2 separate regions of the Homo sapiens genome follow, and region 1 is linked to region 2. Evidence: fine-mapped expression QTL. A gene starts in region 2. The other region holds a variant in brackets. All regions are shown on one strand. Distances are between the middles of the regions. Region 1 has its middle 6.7 kb from the start of PLEKHG5. Region 2 holds the start of TNFRSF25 (TNF receptor superfamily member 25).

Region 1 (5,357 bases), 32 kb after region 2:
CCTGGCTCCAAACCCCGGCTCCATCTCTCATGAGCTGTGGGCCTTGGCCAAGTCACTGGACCTCTCTGAACCTTGGTGTCTTCATCTGGAAAACGGGGTGACGATGCCTTCCCTGCAGAGCTGCCGCAATCAGTGCATATGGCACAGAAAGCGGGTGGCACTAAGCCCAGCACATCACAGGCAGAAGCGCCCAGCCAGTACTATTATCCTCCTTCCTGCCCCCTTTATCCCTGATTTATACTTCGCCCCACTCCCAGCTCCCAAGCCCTGGCACTCCAGGATCAACTGGCCCCTTCCTCCTTTTGTCATCCCCAGGGCCATGGTCACACTCGCCAAGTCCCAAAGCATCTCAGACCCATGCCCAGGCCTGAAGAGTGGCTGAGTTCAACAGGAAGGGTGCCATCTGGGCACTGGACCAGCACCGTGGGAGACCACTTCCCCTGGCTAAGCCTCAGTTTCCTCATCCGTGACATAAGGCTACAGCTCCTGTCACCTCAGAATGGCTGCTAGGACCACAGTGCAGCAAAGGGCTTTGGGGTACTCCACCCCCCTGTTCTTGTAGAAGTCCCCCGACTCCACTGTTCCTGAGCTGGGGGCAGGCCCTCTGCCTCCTAAACCAGACACACTGTGGCCCCACCTACACTTGAACCCAGCCCAGCCAGCCGCGCCCGTGCCAGGGCTCTGTGGATAGCTGGTGCTGGGATAGAAAGGGCAGTTAGAGCCCTGGCCCCTCTGCCCCCGAGGGTCCCCAGGCTCTCCAGCCTCCCTACCTTGGCCGCCCGCCCCTTGTCCATGCAGGCGGGGTTCTGACAGCGCAGTCCCTTCTTTTCAGCGGGGCTCTGGTCGTCTGCAGGGGAGGAGCAGAGGGCATCAGTCAGCGGGGCACCCAGGCTCCCCTGGGCCCCACTGGCCTCCCAACCGGAGGAGGGGTGGGGTGATCTCCTCAGTCCTCCCTTCAAAAGAGGTCAGCGTCCCTTTCTCTTTTAAATGCCAACTTATCTGCACGGGAATCCGTTTGCAGAGCCCTTTTCTCCTGCAGTCCTCAGGGAAATTATCCAGATTCCACGGGGAGAAAACATCTTTGGAAATACGCTGCTCTCTCCCTCTGTCCCTCTAGTCTGGGGGACAAGTGGGGGAGCGCTCAGTGACCTTTTGGGGCCCCAGACTTCCCAGGGGGTCCCGGCAGGGCTGCTGGGGGGAAGGGGCTCCAAGATCCCAGATCCCTGAGAACCTTACGCCCTGCATCGCTCCCTTTAGAGACAGAGGAGCCCCCGAAGGTCTGGGGCGACCCCCGTTCCCCAAGACTCATCTTTGACCCTGAATTTGGCCCCCTCCAAGCTGCCTCTCTTCCTGGGGGCTGGAGTGCACCGCGGTGGGGGCAGAGCGGCGCAACCAGCGAGAGGCGGGGGGAGGGAGGAGAAGCGGGGTGCTGCCGAGGCAGGCCCCGACTTGGGGGCCGAGTTTGGGTACGAGCGGCCCGAAGCCCGGTCGGCGCCCACCCCCTTGCCTGGAGCGGGCCCTCCCCGGAGGAGGTTAGGAGCCGGCCCGGCCCCCCAGGACCCCGCCCCGCGTCCGCCGGGTCCCCGCCTGCACTCACCCATGGAGCAGGCCCCGTGCCGCGCGGGGGGCGGGCGGCGGGCGGGGGCGCCGGGGACGCCGGGGACTGGGAGGCCGCAGAGCCGCCGCCGCCGGACCCTCGCACGGGAGGCGGGCGGGGCAGGTGGGCGGGGAGGAGCCGCGGCGGCCCCGCCTCGGGGGCGGGGGGCGGGGGGACAGGAGCGCGGCCGGGCCTCGGCGCCGACGGTGTCACCCCTCCCTCCCCGGCTCCCCGGCCCCTGCGCGCTGCGGTCCGGAGGCTGCCTCCACCTCCCGGAGGGCGGGCACCGGGGCGGCTCAGGAAGCGCGCACGGCTCTGTCCTGGAGGGTGCCATCCACGCGGAGGGTGCCTGTCCGCAGGAATGCAGGCCGGGAGCCACGCAGAGCCCCCACCCCAGCCCGGAATCGCTGTCTCCGAGGTCAGTTTCCATGGCAACACGGAGGCTGCCCCGCGCAGGGTGAGGGCTGTCACCGGGAGAGACTCGCCTGCCACGGCTCTTGCTGCATGTCCTCTGCTGGTTCAGTTTTAAACTTTATTGAAGTGCAAACGCGGACAGAGAAGTGCACCTGTCCTGTGAGCACAGCTCAACACATTTTCAGGAAACTTTCACAAAATAACCTGTGCCCAGACCGAGCTGCAGAGCGTCCCCACCCAGTCCCCAGCCCCCGCCACCTCCCTCGTGCCAACCGGTCCCCCCAAGGGCACCGCCGCCCTGACTTCCAACACATCGATTCGTCTGCCCGGTCCTGTAGTTTATGTAAATGGCATCAGGAGATAGCAAACCCTTTGCCCTACAGAAACAGCCTCGCAGAGGTGGCCAAGAGTCTGCGGGGGCTCAGTGCTCCTGAGCCTGCCTCTGGACCCCCAGCCCACCCTGCACACTGGCACCAGGAGGCATTGCGCCGACAAGACCTAGGTATAGAAGATGCAGCTTCCAGCAGGGCCGGGTCCCTCTCCCAAAGGCTAAGGGTGGACTTCCCTGACCCCTTCACTGGAAGGCCTCTCAGCTGGAGCCTCCCTGCATGGACTCCTTACATGGGCTGGGTCCGGCCCTGGGACTCACAGGTGACCAGAAACTGGTGCCTGCCCCAAGGACTCCTGGCACAGCAAAGTAGCACGGATCCCGGGTCTCCTGAGCTCTCTGGATTCATTCAGCAAACACACTAAAGATCCTCTGAGGATCCCCATGAGCCAAGCTCTAAGCTGGGTGCTGGGGACTCACTGGTGACCCTGACAAGACTTGGGGAGCTCACAGGGGGCCTGGTGGGCAGGGTAGCCCTTTGGGGGGCAGCACATCTGCATGACCCTGGGGAGGGGGCTCTCGAGGAGGGGCTGCCACAGGCACCC[C/T]GGGGGCCTCCAGGCTGAGAGGGAAGCAGCTGCCCGGGGCCCTGGGCCTCCTCAGTGCACAGCCTACGGGAACTCTCAGGATCCTCAGGCCCAGCCCAGCCTCACCCCCACACTGTGCTCATTTCCCTCTCCGAGTCTCTGCTCTCAGCCATCCAAGGGGCCAGCGATGCCTGTCCTGCCTCTAGGCTGGAGGTGGAGGCAGCCGAGGCAAGAGACGGCCCTGTGAGGACTGTGGCGAGGTCCCTGCCTGCTGGGAGGAAGCTGACTTGAGGGTGGAGTGGGGTTCGGGGCTTTTGTCTGCCATGACTCCAGCAGGCCCTCCTCTGCCATCTGTGTTTCCACGGGGACCTGGAGCCCTCAGCCAGCTTTGTGGGAGTTTCCCATGCGTCCAGCCTGGGACTTCTCCAGCTGAGCAGGACAACATCTGCTGTCCGCCCAGAAAGTTTCCAGGCCCCTGCGTTCTCAAAACTCTGAGCCTGGGGTTGGATTCTCACACCCTTTGCCCCAGGGCCTCTGGATTGTAGCCCCGTATTCTGAAGGCTCCGGGCCATGTCTTCTGCCACTGGGTCTGCCTCACCAGCTCCCTAGATCCCCCCATGACTGCTCAGGTCACAGCCACCATCGGGCCTGACTATCCTGTGGCCTCTATGCCACTTGGGTTCTGGAATTCCTTGTCCTTTGCCTGGTACTTCCTGGCACTGGGGTCTACCTGCCTGAACTCTCCGGCCTCTGACCCCTGGTCTCAGCAGGCTCCAGGTGCTCACCCTGCCTTCTAGACCCTACACTCCTGATCCCCTGGTCCTGGCTCCCCTGGGAGGTAGCTCCCTCTGGGCTCTGCTCTAAAGCTGCAACTTCCTGCATTGCGTAGGCGAGCTCCTCTCTCCTGGAGACTGCAGACACGAAGAAAAATCCATCAGGACCCTGGTAGCTCTCAGGGCCCAGAGTGGGGCCTGTGGGGCTTGGGGGTGAGGTCAGGACAAGCAGTCCCCACCATAGGCCTGTCATGAGCTCTCCTGCAGGTGACCTATCCCCATCTACAGCCTTCGAGGAAAGGGTGGGCCTGGTAAGGGGGACATACTGTATCAGGTGATAGCGTACCCTGGACATAGCTGGGTTTTTCTTAATTTAATTTAATTTAAAATTTATTTTTTGAGACAGGGTCTTGCTCTGTTACCCAGGCTGGAGTGCAGTGTTGTGATCAGGGCTCACTGCAGCCTCGACCTCCTGGGCACAAGTGATCTTCCCACGTCAGCCTACCGAGTAGCTGGGACCACCGGTGCACACCACCATACCTGGCTAACTTTTTAATTTTTTTATAGCAACGGAGGTCTCACTATGTTTCCCAGGCTGGTCTCGAACTCCTGGCTTCAAGGGATCCTCCTGCCTTGGCCTCCTAAAGTGCTGAGATTATAGTTGTTGAGCCATCTACATAGCCTGGCTCAGCCAGTCAGATTTGCTCTCCTGAGACTATGAATTGAGACAGGCCTGGGAAGGAAACATGATTCCGATCCCCTTCCTGATAGGAGCCCACAGGCAGGACTACTACTGGGCCCTGGAGACTTGAGTCCACTGAGAGTCAGTCCAAATAGGTACGATGCCCCAAGATTGTTGGGGAGCAGGAAAAAGGGGAGCAGCCCCTCAGTGGAAATCACCCCAGAGCAGACAGGGCAGGAGAAGGCAGCTTTGTGAGAGTGGGCAGCTCTCGGGGTGGCAGGGGGGCGGCCTCCTCTGCCTGCCCCGGGCTTCCCTTGGGAGCCCTGCCTCTTCGTAGCAACCCCTCTTATGTGGACCAGCCTAAGCGGTGTCTGCTCCCCGACCTCAGCCCGACCCTAAGCAGACCTGGAACCCTGAACTCCCCCCTCCGCTAAGCAAACCTGGAACCCTGAACCTCCCCTCCAGGCAGACCTGGAATCTTGAACTCCCCCCTCCCCTAAGCAGACCTAGAACCCTGAACTACCCCCTCCGCTAAGCAAACCTGGAACCCTGAACTCCCCCCACCCCTAGCCAGACCTGGAACCATGAACTACCCCCCTTGAGGCAGACCTGGAACCCTGCACTCCACTCGTCCCTAGGCGGACCTGGAACCCTGAGCTCCCGCCACTGCATGCCAGACACTGCCTCCCCACGTGCGCAACAGCCCAGCTGCCCTCCTGGCTCCCCCACCTCCCGTCGCAGGGAGACCAGGGCCCTTGGCCAGGCAGAGGAGCCTACTCGCCAGTTCTCCCCCGACCCTGTCTCAGTCGCAGGAGGCCACTTGGGCTTTGTCCTGAACATGATCTCTACCAGAACTGGGCCTCGGGGCGCGGGCAGAACGGCCGGCAGACATGTTTTGTTTGGCTGAGAACAGGGTTTCGGAAGAATTTAAATTGGTTGCCAACTTTGAAAAGTCAGGAGATTTCACATAAAAGTCCAT
Region 2 (5,357 bases):
CTCTGTTGCCCAGGCTGAAGTGCAGTGGCACGATCATAGCTCACTGCAGCCTCAACCTCCTTCAGCCCAAGTTTTAAAGCTATATCAATGTGACTCTCTGTGTAAGTGACAAATCATCTGTAATATCTGGCTAGGATCGCTGGGGGGAATGCTGGCTGAAAGTGAAGGCAAATACCCTTATGTATCTGGCTAAGGCGGATCCAGATTGCTCTTTTGCCATCTAAGTTTGCCTGAAGTGGGGCCCACCCATCACAGGGCCAAGGCTCCCTCCTCCCTATCCCCTCTTCCTATTCCTGAACCAGCAGCACCTGCCCCACCCCAGGCCCCTGCTCTGCTCCCAGCCGCCCTTCCCTCCATCCCACGACAGCTAGGAATTACGTGGGGCAGGACACGCAGCCATCGCCATGTTCATAGAAGCCAGGCAGGCAGGTCCCACAGTCAGTATCTCTGCGGGAACCTGCAATCCAGGAGAGGCATGCGTCACCATGGGACAGGAGTGGGTCAGGCAGGGAGAAGGGGGTCTGGGAGTAGAGAGCCCTGGGTGGGGGTACTCACAGAGTAGCCGTGTGTGGCGGTGCAGGGCCCCGCAGTCTAGGCATGGTTGGCAGTAGAAGGGTGAACTGCTGACACATTGGCTGACCTGGCACTCCACAAACCAGCCTGGCTTACAGCCACAGCGGGTGTCGGCCACTGCTGAACAGTTCTCCAGCGCCACCTGGGAGGCTGGTGGGGGTGCAGGGAGATGGGGAGTGGAGAGTTAGTCAGGGCCAAAGGCTCCCATGGAGAGGCAGAGGCATTATCCCAAGATAATGGAGACAGAAATAGGCGAAAGACAGACAGGTACAGGGCTACCCTAAAAAAGAGAGAAGCTCAGAGATTAAGGCCGACCAGAGGCCAAGGCACATGGAGAGATGGGAAGGTCACCAGGAAGAGAGAAGGGGCAAGGGCACCCTGAAGGAGGATCAGGGTGGAGGGTTCTGGCAAGGGTGGGTGCAGGACCCTCACACCCCAAGTTTGGGCCCGAGCCAGCCACTTCCTTCAGAAAGGCCTGTCCTTAGGAACTCCCTGCCAAGCACTGAGAAGCCCCTCACCCTGCTCATCACAGGCCTGGCAGCGGGCACATTCAGAATTATGGTGGTTCTCCCAGGCCAAGAAGGTGTCTTGGGGACACACAAGGCAGGTGGAGTTGCCGCAGGGCTCCGTGCAAGGGGCCTTCAGGTAGTGCCCTGTGGAACCAGGCAGGGGTCAGGCAGGCAGAGGGGCTGCCCAGCAACCCCCGACCTGCTTCCCACCCTGCCCTCCCTCCCTCTTTCTCTCCAGCTCCCTACTTCTCTGTCAGCCTACCCCTACCTCCCCTGCCAGCCTCCTCTTACCTCCCGGGCCTGCCCGCCACCTCTCCAGCCCTGCCTGCCCCATGCCTCTCCCACCCCTGTGGCCACTTACCCGCTGGGCAGCCTCTGCAACAAAACAGACCAATCTTCTTGTGGAAGTCACCGGCACAGTCACACCTGGGGCTACGAGTGCCGCCCTGGGCCCGGGCCCCCAGCAGCACCAGGAGGAGCGCCTGGGGGACAGGTGCTGCTGACTCTCAGCGCAGCTGCCCACGTGGGGCCTCTCCCTGCTGCGTCTCCTCCATTTCAGAGGCCCCAGCATTTGCCCACAGAGCAGCCCACTTCCCAGGCCCCGGGCAGAAGGGGTGCCCATGGGTGGAGAGGAAACTAACTTCCTTCCCCCCGCGCACACACCAGGCTTCGGAGGGGGCGCTTACCAGCCCCTCACAAGTTTCCCCTCCACCAGAGCAGGAATCCAGCAGCGCCCCCACCCCCACCCATGCTTTCTGTTGGGGGAGGGACACTGATAATGCTCTGCCTGGGGCCCCCAGACCCTCCTGGGAGGGGTTTCCTCTCAGTGGAAGGGCTACGCCCTGGAGGAGCCTTTAACGAGATCGGAAAGGGCGGCCAACCCAGCCCCCAGTGAGGCTTGGAGTGGAGACGCGCCCGGGGCCCCTTCCTTCACCGAGGCTCTTGGGACAGGGCTCAAAGCTGCCCCTAGCCTCCTGCGTCTCAACTCACCGCCGCCACCGCCGCGCAGCCCCGCGGCCGCTGCTCCATAGCCCTCCGACGGGCGCCCAGGGGCTTCCCGGCTCCGTGCTCTCTGCCCGTCGTGGTTCCGCCTTCAGCCCCGCGCCCGCAGGGCCCGCCCCGCGCCGTCGAGAAGGGCCCGCCTGGCGGGCGGGGGGAGGCGGGGCCGCCCGAGCCCAACCGAGTCCGACCAGGTGCCCCCTCTGCTCGGCCTAGACCTGAGCTCATTAGGCGGCAGCGGACAGGCCAAGTAGAACACGCGAAGCGCTGGGCTGCCTGCTGCGACCAGGGGCACAGGATAGAGCTGCATCTCGGTCCCCACCCCGACTCTCGCCCCAACCCTGAGAACCACTTCAAGGTAGAGCCAGGGCAAGTGACTTCTCTCTCGGCCTCCGCGTCCCCAGCCATGGAGGAGGTTGGGCCAAAAGTACCGCAAGGGGCCAAGCGCAGTAGCTCAGGCCTGTAATTCTAGCACTATGGGAGGCAGAGGCGGGCGGAACACTTGGGGTCAGGAGTTCGAGACCAGCCTGACCAATATGGTGAAATGCCGTCTCTACTTAAAATACAAAAACTAGCCCGGCGTGGTGGTGCACACCTGCAGTTCCAGCTACTAGAGTGGCTGGGGCAGGAGAATCGTTTGAACCCGGGAGGCAGAGGTTGCAGTGAGCCGACATCACACCACTGCACTCCAACCTAGGTGACAGAGTGAGACTCTGTATTAAAAAAAAAAAAAAAGTTCCTGAAGGGACCCCCATGGAGGACCCACCTTCCCAAGAGGGCTGGCCTGAGTGTGGGAACTGGGCAGATTCAGCCCTGAATCCCCGGGGGGCACCTGGGGAGAGGCTCTGATGGTGGCTGAAGGTGGGGAAGTCTGGGGGTGTTGGTCTGGTGGCACCCCACACCCCATTACTTCCCAGTGCTTCCCATGGCAAGCTCCATCCGTGGCCCATCCGTGGCAAGTGGAGGAGCACAGGAACACAAGGAGGCCGCCCTGAACTCAAGTGCCCCGAGTCACTGGGCCCCAAAGCAAAGGACTCTTCCCAGTGGAGTCTAGACAAGTCTTTATAAAAGAACCAAAAGCTCAATAAATACGTAACTTCACAGAACCCAGCCCAAGCCAGGGGTGGCCTGTGGGACTGGGAAGGTGGGGGCAGGGCAGGAGTGAATCCCACTGGAGGCCAGTGAGGGTAGAAGTAGGATGGGCAGCCTAGGAGCCCAGCCCTGAAGACTCGAGCTGAGCTGGTAACTTCGGGGAGTAGGTGACGAGGGGCTGCCTGGGCAGGTGGGGTGGTACTGTGGCCTGGGCCTCCTCCACTCCATCCAGTCCGGCAAAGCGCAAATCGGGCCCGGGCGTAGGCAGGGATCCTGCCCAGCATCCGGCTCATGCATACAGGAGGCAGTAGCTGAAGCAGGTGCCGGCACGCCCCAGGAGGCAGGCTGTCTGCTGTCTCTTGGTCAATGGCACTCTTGGGGGCCTCCCTCTGCTCAGACCTCCCTACAGGGTGGGGAGGGGACAGAGTCCTTCTTTGGCTGACGCCATTCAGAGTGGCTCTGGTCACCCTCTCTTCCCCACGGCACTCCTCAGGCCCCTTCACTGCTGCCCACCACAGCCCCCTGCGCCCAGACACTGGGCAGGGTTCAGGCTCCCTCCGCCATGACCCTCCCCAAATGCGATGCTCCCAGGCATGAGTGGGCCCCCATGCCAGTGCCCTGAGCCACCTGCCCTACCCCAGTCCAGGCCACTCACGAGGCAGTGAGCGTGGAGTTAAGCAGCAGGGTGGTCCTGATTCGGTAGAGCTGGGCCAGGGTCAGCTTCCTGTGCTGGGCAGAGACCCCTGGTGGGGGCTCAGGCTGGACCCTGGGAGAGGCCCCCGAGGGCAGGTCTCCACACCTCTTCCTGTGGGAGCCTGCAGGTTCCCCGGCCAGGCAGCCGACTAGCCCAGGACCGCTGCCAGGGCTAGGGGCCCCTCGGCAATCCCAGCTGGGCCCAGCTTCCTGAGGGGAGCCCTGAGTCCTAATACCTGGGGCTGGAACAGCCAGGCAGAGCTCTGACAGGCTGCGGCTGGGGGCAGAGGGTGTCCCATGGGTGCCAGCCCCTGCCAGCAGCTGGAGGAGGCTGGCCTCGGACTTAGACTTGAGCAGGTGGGGCGGGCAGCTCAACAGCTGGACAGGGGTGCGGCGGCGGAGACGGGGCGAGGGTGGAGGGGAAGGAACTCGTGGGGACTCTGGGGCCCGAGGCACTAGCTCTGCCATTGGGCCTGGGGCCACAAAGTCTTGTAAGGAGGTTGGGGAGAGGGTGCCGTAGGCAGAGTCCATGGAGCAGGAGCGGCCGTCCACCGGACCCAGGGGCAGCAGCTCACTGGTGGGCGTGGCAGATGAGGCAGTGGTGCTGAGAGAGGTCTCATCAGACTGGGAGCTGAAAGGACCGCTGTCGAACTCGGGGGAGGACAGCGTGTCCCCAGGCTCTACCACAACCATGGCCAGGGTCTCCGTGGAGCCATCTGAGGCACTGTGGGGCCAGGAGCAGAGTCAGCCCAGGCCATGAAACCTAGATGGCCTGAGGCAGCCCCAGGCTGGGCAATGCACGGTGGTTTATACCCTCTGCCCTCCTGGGGCTGGAGGCTCAGAGATGGCAGCATGTGGCAGGTGTGGCAGATCTTCCAGCTCCAGTGCCCACAACAGACCTCAGTAGCGAGCCCAGCACTCTTCCCTGCCAAGGCTGGATCTGCCCTAAGGATCCTCAGCACAGCACCCCAGGCAGCTACCACGAATGGATCAGGGCTGGCAGCACATGGAAAGGTGTCTGCCCTCCCCACCCGGACTCTGGGGGAGACAGAGCCCCGCTCCCACAGTGTTCATGACAAGAGGCCATTGGGAGGAAGGGAGCGTGGCTGGGCCTTCAGGAGTCCTGGGCTAGAGTACTTGTCCTGGTTTGACCTGCTGGGTGGTCATGAGCAGACGTACCAGTGCTGAGAGTCGGGGCTGCCGCTGCTTTTCCGCATGATGGTAGGGGAGCTGGCAGCTGAAGTGCCACTGTCCTCGCCTTCCTCCTCCTCCTCCTCCTCCTCCTCTTCCTCCTCCTGCTCATCCTCCTCCTCTTCCAGGCTCTGCAGGGGCTGCTGACTGCCTGGGGGCTCCTGTGCACGCAGCTGTTGCAGCTGGTTCTGCAGGCAAGGTTGGGGTACATGGGACAGAATGGGTTGTGACCAGCATCTCCCTAATCTGCCTTGCCCACCCACTCACTACTCTGCACTCACCTGGGCATTGTAAATGGTG

The links. PIP is the estimated chance that this variant, and not a neighbour inherited with it, causes the effect.
Region 1: its variant is fine-mapped to the expression of TNFRSF25 in whole blood (TOPMed, PIP 0.99).

The regions. Positions count from the first base shown.
Region 1 is chr1:6,495,723-6,501,079 of GRCh38, forward strand. It overlaps a transcript of PLEKHG5 not described here. Among named protein-coding and RNA genes, the nearest start is that of PLEKHG5, 6.7 kb to the left of the region's middle. RefSeq lists an enhancer at 1-354 and a silencer at 2,058-2,147. The variant C/T (reference allele first, on the strand shown) is at 2,945.
Region 2 is chr1:6,463,997-6,469,353 of GRCh38, forward strand. It overlaps TNFRSF25 (TNF receptor superfamily member 25), which reads right to left and starts at 2,177. Exons shown (of 10, transcript NM_003790.3): 1 at 2,073-2,177; 2 at 1,444-1,564; 3 at 1,092-1,226; 4 at 556-723; 5 at 379-457. The coding sequence starts at 2,111. It overlaps PLEKHG5 (pleckstrin homology and RhoGEF domain containing G5), which reads right to left. Exons shown (of 21, transcript NM_020631.6): 18 at 5,339-5,357; 19 at 5,046-5,245; 20 at 3,829-4,590; 21 at 3,126-3,576. The coding sequence ends at 3,567. RefSeq lists an enhancer at 1,998-2,946.